Linked DNA regions of Homo sapiens. The protein of the gene in region 2 purifies or fractionates together with the protein of the main gene of each other region. This does not show direct contact. Each region holds a gene or a part of one and is shown on either strand. Other genes may lie near its edges. The genes, in order: ABCB1, SLC26A3, ATP11B, CACNA2D1, TOM1L2 and LMTK2.

Evidence for each region.
Region 1: the proteins of SLC26A3 (region 2) and ABCB1 purify together in Homo sapiens (affinity purification with mass spectrometry; one large-scale study listed by BioGRID and IntAct). This does not show direct contact.
Region 3: the proteins of SLC26A3 (region 2) and ATP11B purify together in Homo sapiens (affinity purification with mass spectrometry; one large-scale study listed by BioGRID and IntAct). This does not show direct contact.
Region 4: the proteins of SLC26A3 (region 2) and CACNA2D1 purify together in Homo sapiens (affinity purification with mass spectrometry; one large-scale study listed by BioGRID and IntAct). This does not show direct contact.
Region 5: the proteins of SLC26A3 (region 2) and TOM1L2 purify together in Homo sapiens (affinity purification with mass spectrometry; one large-scale study listed by BioGRID and IntAct). This does not show direct contact.
Region 6: the proteins of SLC26A3 (region 2) and LMTK2 purify together in Homo sapiens (affinity purification with mass spectrometry; one large-scale study listed by BioGRID and IntAct). This does not show direct contact.

What each region holds. Positions count from the first base shown.
Region 1 is NC_000007.14:87,594,385-87,597,884, forward strand, and holds part of ABCB1 (ATP-dependent translocase ABCB1), read right to left. Parts: intron 1,431-3,500; coding exon 1,382-1,430; intron 1-1,381. UniProt on the Homo sapiens protein: Translocates drugs and phospholipids across the membrane. Catalyzes the flop of phospholipids from the cytoplasmic to the exoplasmic leaflet of the apical membrane.
Region 2 is NC_000007.14:107,789,724-107,793,223, forward strand, and holds part of SLC26A3 (chloride anion exchanger), read right to left. Parts: intron 2,218-3,500; coding exon 2,107-2,217; intron 1,513-2,106; coding exon 1,325-1,512; intron 1-1,324. UniProt on the Homo sapiens protein: Mediates chloride-bicarbonate exchange with a chloride bicarbonate stoichiometry of 2:1 in the intestinal epithelia. Plays a role in the chloride and bicarbonate homeostasis during sperm epididymal maturation and capacitation.
Region 3 is NC_000003.12:182,859,504-182,863,003, reverse strand, and holds part of ATP11B (phospholipid-transporting ATPase IF), read right to left. Parts: intron 1-3,500. UniProt on the Homo sapiens protein: Catalytic component of a P4-ATPase flippase complex which catalyzes the hydrolysis of ATP coupled to the transport of aminophospholipids, phosphatidylserines (PS) and phosphatidylethanolamines (PE), from the outer to the inner leaflet of intracellular membranes.
Region 4 is NC_000007.14:81,945,944-81,948,360, forward strand, and holds the end of CACNA2D1 (voltage-dependent calcium channel subunit alpha-2/delta-1 isoform 1 preproprotein), read right to left. Parts: 3' UTR 501-2,417; downstream 1-500. UniProt on the Homo sapiens protein: The alpha-2/delta subunit of voltage-dependent calcium channels regulates calcium current density and activation/inactivation kinetics of the calcium channel. Plays an important role in excitation-contraction coupling.
Region 5 is NC_000017.11:17,962,401-17,965,900, forward strand, and holds part of TOM1L2 (TOM1-like protein 2), read right to left. Parts: intron 1-3,500. UniProt on the Homo sapiens protein: Acts as a MYO6/Myosin VI adapter protein that targets myosin VI to endocytic structures. May also play a role in recruiting clathrin to endosomes. May regulate growth factor-induced mitogenic signaling.
Region 6 is NC_000007.14:98,193,862-98,197,361, reverse strand, and holds part of LMTK2 (serine/threonine-protein kinase LMTK2 precursor), read right to left. Parts: coding exon 2,790-3,500; intron 1-2,789. UniProt on the Homo sapiens protein: Phosphorylates PPP1C, phosphorylase b and CFTR.

The DNA.
Region 1 (3,500 bases), about 20 Mb from region 2:
TACCTCATATTAAAGCTCCATATTTTTATTCTTTTGTGCCTTAAAATGAATTATTGATAACATTGCCTCTATATAGTAGGTCTGTTAAATTTTCTAAAATATAAGACTCCTAAGGTTTAAAAAAATTTAACTACAAATAATAAAAACTGAAAGTCTCAAAGTGACAGCACTGAAATCCTGGGGATAAATACAACTTTAACCTAAACGCTTCTTTCCATACAAGAAAGTAACAATGAAAACTGTCACTTGGTTACTCAAGTAGCCTAAGAATGACTCAAGTACATAGTCTCATCTCACCAAAATTCCAAAGGGCGTAGAGATAGAATAAAAGCAGGAGTCATGGCAAGAGCAATGGTAGCACAGAGAAACGAAGATCACATAAGGGAACCATAGAGTCCTCAGTGTAAAAGTCACATGACTGTTTTTTCCCTACCTACAACTATTTTTATAGTCAATTTATTAAAATCCATTTTGCAAGACAATCTATCCACTCCCTTACCTTAAAAAAATTGCTGTGTTATGACTGAATTATAAAGCATGTGCTGTTGGACTTAATTGGTTTAGTAGTCTTCCAGGTTCTAATCTCTGGAATCTTTCACCTAACAGTTCACCTAAATTTGTACTCTTAGAAAAAAGGAAGTAAGAATCCAGGTAAATAAGAGGTCATTAACTAGGCAGAGGTTGCAGTGAGCCAAGATCACAGCACTGAGGTCATCAACCAACCACACATATATGATACATGTCTGATTCCAAGTGTGATTAAAGAAAAGCTTCTAAAAAAACCACTGTGCAACCAGAAAATGAAATAAAGAGTTACAATAAGGTTTTCGAATTCTAGATTTTCATCTGTTTAACACAGGGGAATAATGGCATATGACATATTTGAAATCATAGTAATAAATAATCCATTGCTACCTTTTATTGTTAGTAATGGATTTTGAACTAAAATTTGCAATGGACTAACCTAAATGACCTAAAATTTGCATAGTAATAAATAATCCATTGCTAACTTTTATTGATAGCAACTGACTTTGACCTAAAAAACCTGCCAAATTTCAGAGCCATTAAAGACAGCATTCTATGTGATTGGTTTCCTCTATGCAGATGGGAGAGGTGCTTGTGTAGGTAATGGATCACTGGCAACATAATTCATTAGAAGAATTGAAATCTAAGTCAGGAATGGTGGCTGTAGATTAGTAATATAGATAGCAAGTTATGATCAGCATTCTCCTGAAAATAAGCTAAATCAAACCAATTTATTTTGCATCTCCATTAACATACCCTATACGAAAATCTTACATCAGATGAAATATCTCTTTTCCATGTAAGGAGATGTCAAATTTCCGAAGTATTTTGAATAGTTAATAAATTCAAAACTCACCATTGAAAATACACTGACAGTTGGTTTCTTTTCCTTCTTATCTTTTTCACTGCAAAACAGCAATGGAATTACATAAAACTTTAAAAAGTACATATTTTTTAAATTACCCAAATTAACATAGAATGTATATTTAATGACTAATAGGAAGAAGAAATATGTCTATATTATACAGTTAAAAAACAGGATGATAATAGTATGACCCCATTTATAATGTTTAAATATGTTTACATATATCTTAGAAATCTACATACGTGGTTATCACTGAGTGCTGGAATCTCTCTAAAAATATTTTCTTCCTTGTGCCTTTGATATTTCCTGATTTGCTATGATGAATACATACATACACCCTTTGCAATTAGAAAAATATACATACTGAAAAGAGTTCCCTGTTTTTATTCTAATTAGAAAATCATTCATGCTTCCCCTTAATTATGAATCCCCTTAATTGTCATTTGATTAATGATGGCAGTAGACATTTTATCCATCCACTACCCAGATATTATTCTTAATCCTTCCCTTTCTAGTGAAGAGAAGTGGCAATTAGATGCTGGGCATAACTAGCCTCAGAAGAAAATTAAATTACTCCTTATAAGCAAATCTAATTGTGAAAAAAATGTCTGGAGTCCTAAATGGACCATTATGAAATAAATGCACGCTAGAAAGCTATGGTCAGAAATGATGTTCTATAAATTGTCAAAAAGTTCTCCTCAGGCATAAGGTCAACTATTATTTTGAGCCCAGATACAAATGAATCTAACTCTGTAGCCCATTTTCTACTCTGTGTAACTGCTACCTAGGATGTGAAAGCAAACCAACCGTAACAAATCTGCCTCATCTGTATTTTTGTAGGTATAAAAGAAAAACTATTTTAGAAAAGATTTGTGTTATTTTTTACACGGTTTTTAAGTTCATAAGGTAAATTCATCTTTGTCTTTGTTCTTTACACTAAGTGAGGTCAAAAGAGGTGAGGAGACTTCTAAAGAAAAAAATCCAGAGTTTACCCATTTGGCTTTGGAGTAATGTTAGACAGACATAAAATACACAAACACAACTCTTCAGGTTTGGTCCCACCCAATTCCCAGTAAAGGCATGGTTTCAGTATCCCTGGAACCAGGATGAAAGGAGAAAAATAGCCATAAATAGTTGAGTTTTAGCTCTAAGCCTTTTATTTATTTTTTTGTTCTCTAAAACAGCTGCTACTCTGGAGAAGTTATAATGTTCCAGGCACTGGCTAAGTAAGCACTTCCCACACACAATTCATAAACAATTCTATGAGGAAGACACATTTTTGTTCTTTTAGAGACGTAGAAGAGTGAGAAGAGTTAACTTGTCCAAGGTTCACAGCTATAACTAAGCCAATATTTAAATGCCAAGTCTGTTCCCTGACCACCAAACTATAAGGTGCAACCTCAGATTTCTGAGATACTGCATCGCATCACATTAAAATGCACTTTCACACAAACTCTCACCCCTACTAGATAACTTACTTATCCCCATTAGCACAAAAAACAGTGCTTAGAAAGACAAGTCATTCATCAAACATCATTTTAATAAAGAATCTTTGCTAATAGTCATATTCCAAATAGGACTATTATCCCAGCATTATCTATTACCAAAGCCATATGCTTCTTTACAATCCCATGTTAAAATAGATTTAAATCAATGGCAATGAACACAATTTAATAAGAACTACTTTAAAATATAATCTCTAATTTGAAAAAAAAAGTCTATAGGCCATGATAGAACCAATAATAGAAATATGTGAAAGATCATACAATTTTCTTTACTGTTTCTCTTCACATACCCTCAATATTTCTTAGTTAAATCTACCTAAATGTTTGTATCATAAGTACATAATTCTTTAAGCTATCAAGTTTTCAAAAATACAAAGTTAAAAACAAAAAGTGGAATACCTACCCTCCACTCTATGGAGTCTTTTTCATGGTTTATATGAACATTTTTGTTACAAAAATTTTCAATTGCAATTACATGTTCTCCTACCATTATCACATCTAAGAAAAGTGATTACAATTCTGATATTGGCTAATATCTAATGCACATTCAAATCTCCCAAGAATGTTTTCCATAGGATTTTTTCCTTGTTGAACTTTTAGATTGT
Region 2 (3,500 bases):
TAGGAGTATACCTCAGCAAACTCAAGGATCCGCAACTGAAATAATATTACACAAAACGTAAAGGCTCAACCTGTATGTACATGCCTTGAAGAAGCAAATGTCCCTGCCTCCTGGGACGCCTCCCACCCAGGGCTCCTCTCTCTCCTTCCCTTCCACCGCATCATCCAGGTGGAACGTCACATGGTATTCACATAGGATATAAGTCTAGTTTGCCCCCAAGAAGTAACAGGCTTATTTGCACTTAATTTATTTTTAAGTGTGCTGTCTTTGGAAGACTCATAGGCCTTTTCTAGTAGAATCTTACCTAGCATCAGCCCTCATAAATTTGCTGATGTAATTTTAAGTTATACTTTCTAGCTGCTGGAGCACGCATGAGCGAGTGTCTATCCTATTTCCTCAAAGTTGCTCAACTTGCTTAAGAAATACATAACTGCATATTGGACATCAGAAGTGCTTGGTTCTAGCTGGGGGAAAAGGATGGTTAATTCCCCCCTAAAGCATCATTGTTTTGCAATCGAGTGAATCGGATGGATTCTCCTTCCCTTGGATACTTGGCCTGTCTTTCTGCTCACATCTCCAGAACGCAGCCAGAGCTGTGGCTGCCCAAAGCCCAGTTGGGTTCCATTTCTATACTAAGTTCAGAAATGTATTAGAAATAACTAACCAAATTGTCAATAAGACGCATGCTTATGTCCTTGTAGAAACTGACTTTTCCTTTCTTTAAGAAATGGTCTTAACCAATAATATCATTATCCATAAACTTAGGCAACATCTCAAAAAGTCCATGACATTTTCAGTATTCAGCAGGAGTGTCAGCATACGGCTTGGAAGTGAGACTTTAGGCTCCACCATAATCCTCGTCAGTTTTCCCCAAAATTGACATGAACAGTTCAAAGCCCCCATCCCTTCCAACTAGATTATAGTTGCTGAAGAATTAAAGAAAAAAATTCCAAAGCCACCAGTATGACGATTTCTTGTATACAGTTATGTTTCTTGACTCTATCAATTCCCAGATATGCTGTTTCTTGACTCTATCAATTCCCAGATATATGTTGAAGCATTTCGCTTGTCACTGTTTGTGCCTCTCCATTCCCCTTCTTCCTTCTGTCTAGACCCACATTCATTCGTTTTTGTACTGTTGACCCACTCCTCTCCCTCTGGTTGTGGTGAGTGACCCTTCGTACAGTATTTCCTATGGGCCATGAGGGAGAGACAAACCAAAGGGAAGATGGGGAGGAGTGGCAGGGGGGAGGAAAAATAGAGAGATGTGTAACAGTCAAGATGAACAGATTGAGGTGGGCAAGTTACATGAGAAGGTGCTCACCTGGATGATTCCAGAAAGCACTGTGACTGATGCCGCCGCCGCCACCCTCACCCTCTCGTCATCCAGTAGTGAAGAATTATTCGAGTTGTTAGGCAATCCCAAAGTAGTTGCATTGCGATCTGGGACTGCTTTTGAAACTGCTCCTGAAACTGCTAGTCCCACCATCATACTCAGAATCGGAAACGGACCTAATTAACAGTGGGTGAATCGTGGTCAGTATATGCCTCTCTAAAGCACATTGTCTTTCAACCACAGAATAAGACCATATAAAATGACTGGCAAGGCTGGGCGTGGTGGCTCACGCCTGTAATCCCAGCACTTTGGGAGGCCGAGGCGGGTGGATCACCTGAGGTCGGGAGTTTGAGACCAGCCTGACCAACATGGAGAAGCCTCGTCTCTACCAACAATACAAAAATTAGTCAGGCGTGATGGTGCATGCCTGTAATCCCAGCTACTTGGGAGGCTGAGGCAGGAGAATCGCTTGAACCTGGGAGGTGGAGGTTGCAGTGAGCTGAGATCGTGCCACTGCACTCCAACCTGGGCCACAAGAGCAAAACTCCGTCTCAAAAAATAAATAAAAATAAATAAATAAATAAATAAATAAATAAAATGGCTGCCATCTGTGACCCTGCCCTCCATCTCAAACCCTGGTCCTAATTCTCACAGGAGACCATGACTCTTCTCCTGGATTATGTGAAATTTGGAATTGATAGAAGGTATGGCTAATAAAATTCATAAGGAAAAAACAATGTGAGCATTAATCAGCTCAGTAACTGACTTACCCACGGATATGTGTCTGGAAGTGCCGAAGAAAAGGTAGATTATGGCTGGGAAAAAGGATGCATACAACCCATAGACTGGGGGAATGTCGACCAGCAGAGCAAATGCTAAACCTGTAAACACACAAGCAGCAGAGCCCTTACTCTGTGCAAGAGGAATCAAAGACATTCTCATTTGGTTCTTATGGTATTTAGAATTGGATCCTAAAAATAAGTTACCTCATTAATTCAAAATGTATTAAAGATGTAAATGTAAGAACTAAAACTATAAAACTTTTAGAAGAAAGCATAGGTATAAATCTTTGTGACCTGGATTTGTCAATGGTTTCTTAGAAATGACACCTATGGCATAAGCCAGCAGTCCCCAACCTTTTTGGCACCAGAGACTGGTTTTGTGGAAGGTAATTTTTCCACTGACTAGGGAAGGGGAGATGGTTTTGGGATGACTCAAGTGTATTACATTTTTTGTGCACTTTATTTCTATTATTATTACATTGTAATATTTAATGAAATAATTATACAATTCACCATAATGTAGAATCAGTGGGAGCCCTGAGCTTGTTTTCCTGCAACTAGATGGTTCCCTCTGGGGGTGTTGGGAGACCGTGACAGATCATTAGGCATTAGATTCTCATAAGGAGCATGCAACCTAGATCCCTTGCGTGCACAGTTCACGATAGGGTTTGCACTCCTATGAGAATATAATGTTGTCGCTGATCTAACAGGAGGTGGAGCTCAGGAGGTAAAGAGAGCAATAAGGAGCGGCTGTAAATACAGGTGAGGCTTCATTTGCTCACCTGCCACTCACCTCCTGCTGTGTGGCCCAGTTCTTAACAGGCCACGGACCTGTACTGGTCTGTGGCCCAGGGACTGGGGACCCCTGGCATAAGCACCCAATGAAAAATACAGATAGACTGGACTTAATCACAATTTAAAAACGTGTACTTCAAAGGATACTATCAAGAAAGTTAACCAATAATTCACAGAATAAAAAAGTTATCTGCAAATTGTATATCTGACAAGGGTCTGGTATCCAGAATATAGAAACAACACTTGCAACTCCACAACAAAAAGACAAATAACCCAATTTAAAAATGGATAAAAACTTTGAATAGACATGTTTCAAAAGATATACAAATGGCCAATAAACACCTGGAAAAAATATTCAATATTGTTAGTCATTAGAGAAATGCAAATGCAAACCACAATGAGATACCACTTCACACTCACTGGGATAGCTAAAAGAAAAAAGATGGACAATAACAAGTGTTGATGATATGGAGAAATCTGAACCCTCATACACTGCTAGTGGAAATGTAAAATGGTGTAGCTACTTTAGAAAATAAGTTAGCAGTTCCACAAATGATTAAATATAGAGTTACCCTATGATCCAGCAA
Region 3 (3,500 bases), on a different chromosome or scaffold from region 2:
GCGGAGCTTGCAGTGAGCCGAGATTGCACCACTGCACTCCAGCCTGGGAGACAGAGTGAGACTCTGTCTCAAAAATAAATAAATAAATAAATAAATGGATCAACTTGTGGTTAAACATGACAGGTTGAGCACATTTAATTATCTCTGGTTCTCTTAAAACTTCACCATGAGGATAAAAAAAAAAACAGAAAAAGAACAAAAATAATGGTAAAAAAGTCAGCATGAGAGGGAAGATTGACACAAGTTTGGAAGATGGAAAAGGAGATGAATGAGTGGTAACTGATGTACCAGAACTTAGAATCTGAAACCCAAGTGATGAGAAAACCCATTCTCAGAAACGCTCAGGAAGTAGACCTACCAGCTACCCCTGAATGTGGGAGTACAGGATGAGGCTGAAAATACAAGCTATCAGGAGTAGTTTAAATTCTGAAATCTCTTTAAAAGTTGCAAACTTCAGAACGCCCCTCATTTATTGGAGCAACAGCTGGAAGGTGTATTCCCCTAGTAGGCTGAACTGGACAGAATCTGGTCTCCGCAGACAGCTGAACACAGAAGGGAGGCAGTGCACTAAAAACAGGTATCCAATGGCCAGCTCTAGCAGCCATAAGCAGCAGAAATATTACCTGCTGGGCCTGTCAGCTCATTACCTTAAGGTGTGGCCCACTGAATCAATAGCTTCTGATAAGCATATTAGTGCCTGAGGTTTTTTTTGTTTTTTTTTTTTAGACAGGGTTTCACTCTTGTCACCCAGGTTGGAGTGCAATGGCACAATCTGGGCTCACTGCAACCTCCATCTCCTGGGCTCAAGTGATTCTCCTACCTTAGCCTCCCAGGTAGCTGGGACCACAGGCACACACCACTGCGCCCAGCTAATTTTTGTATTCCAGCTAGTATTTGTATTTTTTGTTTTTGTATTTTTTTGTAGAGATGGGGTTTTGCCATGTTCTCCAGGCTGGTCTTGAACTCCTGGGCTCAAGTGATCTACCCACCTTGGCCTCCCAAAGTGCTGGGATTACAGGCATGAGCCACTGAGCCCAGCCTTTCATTTTTTTTTTTTTTTGAGACAGGGTCTCACTCTGTTGCCCAGGCTGGAGTGCAGTGGTGTGACCAGGGTTCACTGCAGCCTCGATTTCCTGGGCTCAAGTCATCCTCTCACCTCAGCCTCCTGGGTAGAGTACTTTTAAATTTGAAATGATAGCCAAAGATTAGCATCCATTTGAGGATCACTCCTTACATAAAAGGTAGAATCTGAAACAAATTATAATCAGTTCTGTTGTAACACTGTCTTGAAAACACAAATTTATCCCAATGCAACTGATACAATAAGAGACAATTTGAGCATAATCAAAACTTTGTGCAAATTTTGCCCAAAACTCAGTTACTAGCTATCTCAGTTCACCATGTGTTATGAGTCACACTCATCCACATCTGGTATTACAACCTTCCCTCTGATTTCAGATAACCTTCCCTTTCACACTTCACAGTAACACTTAAGTTGCAACCCTTCTGATGCCTATCTTCCACAGGCAAACTTCAGGTCCAGGTAAGTGCCGTATTTATTGAAGCATTTGTGTATTCATGAACAATTTGGCAAGTGCTGTTTTTATTAGGTTCCTATCTTTTAAAAAATGTATTATTAGGCTGGGCACAGTGGCTCACACCTGTAATCCCAGCACTTTGGGAGGCCAAGGTGGGAGGATCACCTGAGGTCGGGAGTTTGAGACCAGCCTGACCAATATGGAGAAACCACGTTTCTACTAAAAATACAAAATTAGCCGGGCGTGGTGGCACATGCCTGTAATCCCAGCTACTCGGGAGGCTGAGGTAGAAGAATTGCTTGAACCCAGGAGGCGGAGGTTGCAGTGAGCCAAGATTGCGCCATTGCACTCCAGCCTGGGCAACAAGAGCAAAACTCCGTCTCAAAAAAAAAAAAAAAAAGTATTATTGTTTTTGTGTTGTACCCCTAATCCCATTCTCTCATAAACCCTGTGGCTTTTACTAGGCAATTTTGCATTATGCAGTGAATTTTAGGAACGCATATATCACATTATAGCAGAACTGGCTGTTCTGGAAAATGCACTACAAGCAAAGATAATAGAGGGAGCAGAAGAAGACTTCAATTGACTGTCATTAATATCCTCGGGGAGGTAAAAGAATAGATTATGTTCAAGAAATGGGATAAGAGGCAATTTTAAAAAACTATCCAGAGAATACCAAAATATTAGAAATTAAAAATATTATAGCAGAAATAAATCAAAAGATACTGAAAAGATAAATCAGAGGCATTCTACCAGAAAGTAGAATATAAAAACAAATAAATAAAAACTGAAAATTGAAGTCAGAGAATTAAAGGGTCAATATAAGTGGTAGGACATGCAAATAGTAAGTTTCAAAACAAGAGAAACATAGAAAGACATGTTATCAAAACAATAGTACAAGAAAATTTCCTAGAATTGAAAGACATGTATTTCCAGGATGAAAAGACTCACAGAGTTAATTGCCCATGAAACAAAAAATAAAAAAGGAAAAACGAACACCAAGGTACACCATCATGAATTTCAGAACTATTGCATAAGGAGATCCTAAAGCTTCCAGAGATAAAACAACAGATCATACATAAAGAATTGGGAATCAGAATGGAACTGGATTTCTCTAACAGCAACACTGGAGGCTAGAAAACAATAAAATCCCTTCAAATTTCTGAAGATTTCAATCTGCAATGCAATAACAGCTAAATTATTAATCAAGTGTGAAAAGAGAATAAAGATATTTTCAGACATGCCAAGTTTCAAAACATTATCCTCTGATACATCCTTTCTCAGGAAGTTATTAGAAGATGTACAGCACCAAAAGAGAATAAGCCACAGGTAGGAAGACATGGGATGCAAGAAAGAGGAGATCCAAAACAGGAGAGAGGCAAAGGAATTTCCAGGGTGATGGTAAAGTGAAGTCCAGAGTGACAGCTGAGAAGCAAGCCCAGAAAGAGTAAAGAATAATCCAATCGGAGCAGAAAGGTGGAAGCCTCCAAAAACATTGCTACCAAAAAAAAAAAAAAGGAAGGCAGGGAGGAAGAAAGGAACTTCTAGATTACCTGGTATGTTTGAATATATAGACAGATGCTGCACATATTATCAGAGACTTGTTTGTGGCACATGGAAATTGAGGAAATGAAAAAACAGAGCAAATAACTCTTGGGAAAACAAAATATATAAGAAGGGAAATGTAATTATGGTATTACAGGACACATCTATAGAACCGGGAATTAGTGAACAATATTAAAACAATCATAATAATGTTAATAAAAATATTTATTAAATCCCAAATTGTGATATGATAGTATTAGGGGGCTATGGAGAAGCAAAGGGATATGTGTCTGGGAAGAGTAGTGTAAGAGTTATGTCTTTATATTCCATAGTAGATAATGTCTAAAACTTAAGAATAAGAAAGAATATCAAATAGAAATATAGTGGTAAATAACAAAAGAAACAACTTAGGGTTTA
Region 4 (2,417 bases), about 26 Mb from region 2:
TAAAAGAAGTCCAAAGTCTGATGAAGTACATTCCTAAGTGCCTTGATGGAGAAGGCATGTTAGAAGGTTAGACTTAAGTAAAGGCATCGCGAGTGAATTGACAGTCATCCCTCTGTGCGTGGGGGGGATCAGTTTCAGGATGCCCACGTGTATCAAAATCAATGCATACCCAAGTCAAGTCTGGAAAGTGGCCCCGCAGAATCTGAGTATACAGAAAGTAGGCACCTGGTATATGTGGGTTTTCCATCTTGCAAATACTGTATTTTCAATCTGCATTTGGTTGAAAAAAATCCACATATAAGTATATCCATGTGGTTCAAACATATGTTGTTCAAGGATTGACTGTATTTGTGTGAGTTGAGGTTTGTAATTGTAAAAGCACTATTTAATCCCAACTTTTATTTCCACAATCCAGAATTCTCTCTTAAAATTATTTATGACAGAGCCATCTGTCTCTTCCAACTGGATCTTTTAAAAAGCAGAAAACCCAAACCGCGTGGTGACTTTAAATGATAAACTTTTATTCTGAATATACTGTTTTTGCACAAGATTTAACACAACATTTTCTGGGATTATAAATATTTTATAACAGTATTATACAAATTTTTACAAAATGTTTTTATCAGGCTAGGTAATTTTCACAAAAGTGTCAAGAGAACAAAATAAAGGGGAGAAAAGATCTATTGTTCACAAAAGCCAGTTGGCCTTTTGCATGAATGCACACCATTTTAATAAAAGTATTCCTAAAAGCATGATCCGACACTCATACAACACAACAAAAAAGACAGCTTTACTAGGTCACATTATAAACTCAACTGGCATCTACACAAGACAGTATCCCATTAGTTTCAGTGGAATTTGAGATAACTGTGTGAACTAGAAATAAGGTAGATGAAGAGTTGTCTAATTCTTCAAAAATCTGGAATTTTTTTCAACACTCAAAACATTATATTGGTTTGCTCTTTACAGAAATGTACTGTGAATATTGACATTCTGCTATGGGAAACAATACAAGTTTAGATGAAAAAATATTTAAAATTTTGGGCAAGTGAAATAGTTATTTCATTCTATTCTTTAAAAAAAGTAACAACATCCATTTTGTTTCACTAGGTCAGACTATACCATTAAACATTTGAACGTCTAACATGATCAATGGAATAGATTCAGAGTTTTAAATGAAGACAAAATCTTAAGCTTTGTTGGTCACAGACAAAGATTTAAATGAGATTTAAAATACAAGAGAGCATCAAATAAGCAAGTAACACTTGGGTTGCAAAGGTCACTTAAAAGGGATACTGCCTATTTGAACCCGATAAGTCCAGTTTTAAAGTTAATAAAAGGAATATTATAGGAAAACTTACAAATGGCAGGAACACTGTTTTTTGTTTTTTTTTTTCCCAAGTTAAGCAGTAACACCTCAAGCATTAGAAACATGAAAAAAGATCATACTAAAATCTTATAGGCCCAGGACCTAAAAATCTCTTCAATCAAACTTGCTAACTATGTCATGTTAAAAACCTGTTACAAATATGGACCACGGTTGGTGTTTGGCAGTAATGCTGGTTGTTTAAATGAGGAAAATAAAAAGAAATCATTAATGCAAAATTCTTTCTTGTTACTCAACACCATTGCCAAGCTCACTTGAACTCTGTTTTAGTGACTAACTACACTAAGCCACATGAGTATAACAAAAATTAGTTAAAGCAGTGTATAAACTTTTTTATTGATCTGTTGTACTGTTCAGTCGTTGGAAATCAATATTAATAACAGGCTATAATTTAAGTTCTTGTCAATGTAACTCAGAAAAATACTAAATGTAATGTAATAATTTGATGGGATGAGTGTTACTGTCTTAAAAAATATGCTAAAAGCATGAAGACTAATATTAGTCATGGGAACAACTTTTATTCAGCTTGTTCTTACCCAATTTGTAATTGCATTTATGGTTGTCATAATATATAACTTTATAGCAGAAAATAAAGGTTTATAGCAAAACTCATGCATATAAATATATTTTGATGGCAACAGAAATTAAATAGGATCCTGCCAAGAGATGCCAAGTTTAACCGCGATTAATACAATAACAATGTAATTGATGAAAACATATACTCGACATTAGCCATGAAAATATATTTAATAGATTTTGAACATAATTTTAAGGTAGTTTGTTGTATGCTGGAAGCAATTCAATTGTTTTAATGTGCATTGTTTATATACACAAACTAACAATTTTATATTTTGATACCCCCTTCCCAACACTATCATGATTTAAGATAGTCTAGCAAAAATTGAACAATAACTTTTAAATATTTAACAAACAACATGATTAAAACATTGTTACTAGAGTGAGAAGTTTTTTTCCCCACATATATTTTAAATCACTTTGGTGTTTTCTAAAATGTCAATACCAGTTATGA
Region 5 (3,500 bases), on a different chromosome or scaffold from region 2:
ACCTCCTCCTCTAGCAATTCTCCTGCTTCAGCCTCCCGAGTACCTGGGACTACAGGCGCACACTGCCATGCCCGGCTAATTTTTTTGTATTTTAGTAGAGACAGGGTTTCACCGTGTTGCGCAGGCTGGTCTCGAACTCCTGAGCTCAGGCAATCCACCCGCCTCGGCCTCCCAAAGTGCTAGGATTAAAGGCATGAGCCACCGCGACTGGCCCAATGTGAATATATTTAATGCCATTGAACTGCACACTTAAAACCAGTTAAAATTGTAAATTTTGGGCCTGGTGTGGTGGCTCACGCCTGTAATCTCAGCACTTTGGGAGGCTGAGGTGGGTGGAATCACAAGGTCAAGAGATCGAGACCAACCTGGCCAACATGGTGAAACCCTATCTCTACTAAAATTGCAAAAAATTTAGCTGGGCGTGGTGGCGCGTGCCTGTAGTCCCAGCTACTTGGGAGGCTGAGGCAGGAGAATCGCTTGAACCTGGGAGGCAGAGGTTGCAATGAGCCGAGGTCGTGCCACTGCACTCCAGCCTGGGCAACAGAGTGAGACTCCGTCTCAAAAAAAAAAAAAATGTAAATTTTGTTATATATATTTTATCAGGTTTTTTTTTTAAAGAATAAATAGAAACAGGTGCCCTCATGGAACATTTAGTCTAAATGATGTAAAACATAACAACACATTTTGCTTTTACATACTCACTTGACCCCTGTAAGATGTGATGGTGCAAGTGTTCTTGTACTCCCTTCACCACCACAGTTTACAGATTGGGAAACTGAGTTTTAGCACAGTTACTGGACTCATACAAAAGCAGTCGCATCGAGAAGCAAAGATGGGACTGACTCCAATCTAGAACAAAGAGTGCTAAGTGCTGGAAGAGAACAAAGAGAGAGCAATGGGAATCCACATTCCTATTGGTGGAACTATGCTATCTTTCTGGAATTCCTATTTGAAATCAGTTTAGGCTCCTTCTTGTCCAAATGGAAACAGACCATGCTTGATGTCTAAAAGGCAACATGAACAAAGAAAAACGCTGGAGCTAGAGCCCCTGGCTGGAGAGGACCGCTCCGCCTACTTGAGCCAGGAAACCTTGGGCAAGTTTCTGAACCCCTTTAAGTCTCTATTTCTTCACCTGTAAGATGAAGATAACAGTGCTTCCAGAGAAAAAAATTTTTAAATGAGATAAGTATGCACAGCACTCAGCAAGGTGCCTGGCACATGGTGAGGGGCCAGGAAATGATGGCTAGTAATGTTAGCTTTCAAAGATGCTAAATACCAGTGACAAAAAGAGTGAATAACTATGAAGAATATACTCTACCATGTGCTGTGAAGGTCACAAGGAAACAGAAAGTAGAGGAGCCTCCAGCCTTATTCAGAAGGTATGGCAATAAACACATGATAAATAACACAAGATAAATAACAACAGTAACAGTGGAGGGAAGGAATCAAGAAGTCTATATTAGTTGATTGCAGGACACCGTGCTAGGGATTTTAAGCACATTATCTCATTTAATCGTCACAAAAACCTGGAGGACAAGTAATATTTTCTGTTTTATAGATAAGAGAAGAGCCAAATGAATGATATGGATAGCAAGCACTGTGAGCTCAGAGAAGAGATTCATCACCATAAACAGGGTGGTCTAGGAAGGCTGCCTGTAGGAAGAGGTGAGGGCTGATGGGCATCAGGCTTGATGACTGAATGGAGAAAAGCAGAGAATCTCCTAAATCAAGAAGGTTGGAGGGAGCAATAACATATGTAACCAAGTCTGAGACTGGTTTTAAAAGTCGCCTCTTTTAACCTCAACAAGCCGGGTCAGCAGGAAAAGCCTGAATGTTATTTATATCTTCTCAGACTACTAGGTTAGCGCAACATTTCTGGGTGATTTATCTGCTAGGTCAAGAGCAACAACCCCTAACTGATGCTCCTCTGGGCAATGTATTTACACCGTTTTCCTTTCCTAATATCCCAAGTAAATAAATAAATAAATGTAGATTATACAGAAATATGCTAAAAGTTGTTCTACAATGTCGCCTCTTCAAGGCATGAGAAGATGAAGAGTGAAATACAAAAGTATTCCATTATGTGAAATAAGCATCTCAACAAATTTGTGAGGACGCACATTGTGGAGATTTTTTTCTCCTTTGCATTTTTTCTATATCTTTCATATTTTCTATCGGTTATACATCGTTTTGTAAAAAGCACAATGAAAGGCTGGGCACAGTGGCTGAAACCTATAATCCCAGCACTTTGGGAGGCTGAAGCGGGAGGATCACTTGAGCCCAGTAGGTTGAGGCTTTAACTACGATCCTGCCACTGCATTCCAGCCTGGGCGACAAAGCAAGACCCTGTCTCAAAAAAAATAAATAAATAAAAAGCACAATTATATGAGAATTTTAGATATTCCGATAGCCCACTCCTAAGCAGTGGCATTCCTCTAGAAAAGCCCTGGGAATAGGTCAGCCCTGTCATTGCATATGATAAACAGAGCAGGAGGAGGAGCAGGCTGACGCCCCACGTGACTTTCAATGTCAGGGGTTTTAAGACCTGTCCAGGCAATTAAGGACAAATGCTCTAGACTAGACTTCTTCTCAATGCTCCATCAACCTGCCTTGGCACCTTTCTGTTTCTGAGGGGGCTTCATAGACAGTGTCCCTACCCTTGACCACAGCTGACATCCCCCCTCCTTCCCCCACCTTCCCTCCCCAATTCTGCACAGAAGCGGGCTTTCATGGTAGAGAGAATGATCTTCTGGTGACTGCTAAGGAGAAATCTCCCTACCTCTGTAATGATATTCATGCTTCCATGCTATTCCCCTCCCTAGAAGTCTTTCATGCCTCCCCAGTACCTCTAAAATATAGTTCAAACTACTTAGCCAACATATGAAGCAAGCCCTCCACACAATCAGGCCTTATCCTCCCTTCCCAGTCTCACCCCCTATCACTCCCCTTTGCTAGGCACACAGAATAAATCCCATCACCCCCGCCTACCTCTTAACATCCAGCATTTGCTCAAGTTGTCTCTGCCAAGAAACCAAACATCCTTTTCCATTTCTACACAAACCAAATCCTCCCCATTCATCAAAGCCCTGCTCAGCAGACACCACCTCCTCAGAGTTTTCCTGAGTTCTTCCTTCCCTCCTACAGTGTTCCTCCTCACTTTACTCTTGCTGAGGGCAGCACAGCGTGACAGGATACCAGCTCTGGAGCCAGAATGCTGCATTCAGACTATAGCTCCCTCACTGCTAGCTGTGTGACCTTAGGTAGGTTCCATACTTTCTCATTGTCTTAATGTCCCCATCTGAAAATGGAGATAATCACAGTACCTTCCTCACAGCATTGTTGTGAGGATCGAATGACTGCAAGATGTATAAAGTGCCCACTTCAGTCTCTGGCACATAGGAATACAACATTAAACTTTTTTTAAAACCCCAAAAACGGGGCCGGGCATGGTGGCTCACACCTGTAATCCCAGCACTTTGGGTGGCCAAGGTGGGTGGATC
Region 6 (3,500 bases), 9.6 Mb from region 2:
TGCTCGGTCCAGGAGACTTGGGTCAAGCCCTAGCACTGCTACTCACTGGGGCCAGACCCTGTGCAAAGTTTACCTACTCTGAGCCTCAGGGTCCTCTCCATGAAGATGGTGACAACCACCCCCACATGGGGAAGCAAAACAAGACTCAATGTATAATAAAGGTGCTGGCACCCACAGACTGTTCACCAGCCTTTACTACTTTACACGGTAAGTGCTGGTTAAGTATTTGCTGAACTGACAAATAGTAATATAACCAAGAAACAATTGCTGCCCAATCCCATGAACACTCAGTTAAAAGTTTGGAGCCAAGATACTTCAACTGCTTAAAAACTACACAACTTCAAAACCAGCTCATTAAAAAAGAAAGCAGGAGTGGGAGGAAACCCTCAGTCCTCGGCCTGAACGCTTGGTGGCTGTCGCTTCAAGGCATGCTGCATGAGACGCATAAGCAAACGAATTTCAGATCATCAGAAAGATCTTCCTCATTTTCTTCTGGCCCTGACCCACCTTCCGACTTTCTCCTTGACACTAACTTCCTTGTCAAAGCCTCGCGTCCATTAAGCATGTCTGGTATTTGATCTCTGTACCTTCCATCCCATAACTAGAGTGCCCTTGTCACAGATCTTCATCTTTTGCAATTCTGTCTTCTAAAGTCAGAAAAACATAACATCCTCCACAAAGACTTGTGCAAGGGGCCCATACTCTGCGGCCCCAGGGAGTTTTCTCCACAGGCTGCTTCCACTGGGACTGCGTCCCTCTCACTACTCCAGCTACCCCCAGGCTTTCAGGAAGTGGGGACAGCGTGCTCCCTAGCTCCTAACCGCACTGCTCACCGAGCACAGTTGACAGTTCCGTCCCACCTATACATTACCCCATCCATGGAGAAATGCAGCGATAATCCAAGTTCACAGAGACGGTGGAGAAAGGGCTATGTGGATGCATTGAAAACAAAACACAAACCCGAGGGGCCAGGTGATCCCTTCTCCCTTCCACTCTTACTAGAAAACGGCAGCGTGTTTTCTCAGGCTCCCTGAGCTCAGAGGCTCCTGAGTTCGAGATCTGCCTAGGAACCACCTGGGGAATGAAAAGAGAAAGACGGCCTCCTGGCCCCTCGCAGAATCAGGTTCAAGAGGTCAGGCTGAGCTCAGGAGGCTGCTTTTTTTTTTTTTTTTCTGAGACAGGTCTCACTCTGTCACCCAGGCTGGAGTGCAGTGGTGCAATCTTGGCTCACTGCAACCTCTGCCTCCCAGGTTCAAGCAATTCTCATGCCTCAGCCTCCCAAGTAGCTGGGCCTGCAGTCTTGCCTACCGTGACTGGCTAATTTTTATATTTTTAGTAGAGATGGGGTTTCGCCATGTTGCCCAGGCTGGTCTTGAATTCCCGACGTCAGGTGATCCGCCCACCTTGGCCTCCCAAAGTGCTGGGATTACAGGCATAAGCCACCGCGCCTGGCCTTACTTTTCATTTTTTAAACATCCACTTCCCCGCCATATATGCTATAGCTCAAATGCGGGTGATTTAACGATTTTTAAAGAAACATCATAAAAACCAAAGTGAACAGAACACAGAGGAACAAGGCATAAAGTGACGTTCAACAGACGCAGCTCCTGGGGGAGGAGGTGGAACAGTGCTTGGACCCGCCATAGCCACGGACCCATGAGGGATGGTGCCACGCAGGGGCTGAGACCAAGGTCTGGGTTCCCAGAATGGAGCAAAAGGGAGGGCAAGCAATGTGAAGGAGACGGCGAGGACTCCTGCGCCTTCTAGAAGGTGAGGGGACCCCATTTTCATGTCCCACCACTGAGCTCTCCCAACAATCCAGCTGATGCAAGCAGCAAATTCAAGGGCTACAAAGACTAGTATGAAAAGAACTTTTTTTTTTTTTTTAAAGCATGCTTGAATTATCCGCTGTTACATTTTTAAAGGAGCCTAAATCCATGCCCACTCAGCAGTGCACACTAAGCTGCCTGCTCCAAAGCAGGGAAAGAGGACAGGTCAGGGGACAGAGCAGAAGGACCACAGACGCTCCTGCTGTGTGTCACACCCTCCAGACACCCACCGCAGGGCTTCTGGTTGGCCCCTCTCCTGAGCTGTCTCCAGGGCTGCACGCCAGCCATGGTTCCAGGCTTGTACCCAAGTGGTGGGTCCTACTGCCAATTGTCAGGCTCTAAAAATTGGAGGCCAAGCGCAGTGGCTCATGCCTGTAATCCCAAAACTTTGAGAGGCTGAGGTGGGAGGATGGCTTGAGCCCAGGAGTTTGAGAGCAGCCTAGGCAACATAGCAAGACCGTGTGTCTACAAAAATTAAAAACAAAACAAAACAAAAAAAACACCAAAACCTTAGCCAGCCATGGTGGCATGAACCTGTGGGCCCAGCTATTATGGAAGGTGGGAGGATCACTTGAGCCCAGGAGTTCAAGGCTGCAGTGAGCTGCAACTGTACCACTGCATTCCAGCCTGGGCCACAGAGCAAGGCTGTCTCAAAAGAAAAATAAAAAAGTAAAACAGTAAAAATTTGGTGTGTAAAGGGTGACTAATTCAGGAAGACTCCATTAGAAGACCCAGGAAGAGCATTCGGGTCTCTTTCTCTTAATTTAATACGAACTCCCTGAGCAAATGACATTTCTGCATATTCTTAGAACTCTAACCAACCCCAAATTACTTTTTGTGAGTAATCACAATCTGCTGCCTCAAAATGGCAACTAGAAAACAGACCACACTCAATTTCCTAGCACATTTTGGAATCCTTATATGGATGTGTATAGAAAATGATTTAGAGGGAACAGATACCTGGTCAAACAGGTAGACTGTGACATCATCGAAAAACGTGACTGCCTTCTTTTCCTTCTTCCAGTCCTCGGGCAGTGGGTCGGGGGCATTGGCCGCTGTGGGCTTCAACAGACTCCGCAGGTGCCTTCCGTCCTCGTTGCTGAGGATGATGGGCACGGGGTGCTCGGTCTCGTCCTCCGACTCGGAGCTGAGGCTATGCAGGTTGAAGGCCCGCAGGTCCTCGTCCGAGTCGTCGCTGTTTTCGTCCTCCTCGTCTGCATCCATCCCGTCCTCTGAGAGGTCGAGCATCCCTGACACCCCGAGTTTCCCCAGGTACTTCCCTTCGATGTCCGGCTCCTTCAACTTCGGGCCCTCGGAGTGGCTGGACAGGGACTTGTCCAGCGCAGAATTGGTGTAGGCAAGGAGTTCGTTCGTGTTGGTCCCCGTGGAAGCGAGGGTGCAGGGGCGATCGTCCTGTGTCTCGAAGTCATCGCCGCTGCTAAGTTCTGCATTCAGCACACTCCAGGGACTGCTGGCCTCGTCTTCCGTGGGATGCACCTGCTGGGGAACACCAGTCTGTGCTGGCTCCGGCGTGGCTCTTAATTCCAGGTCACTGGAGTTGTGCAAAGCAGACAGACAACTTTCATCTGGCTGGCTCTTTCTGGCTTCCAGGCAGCTATCCTGGGCAGCAGGACTTTGCTCGGGGAGGACTGGCTCGGGTAGGGGCTGCTC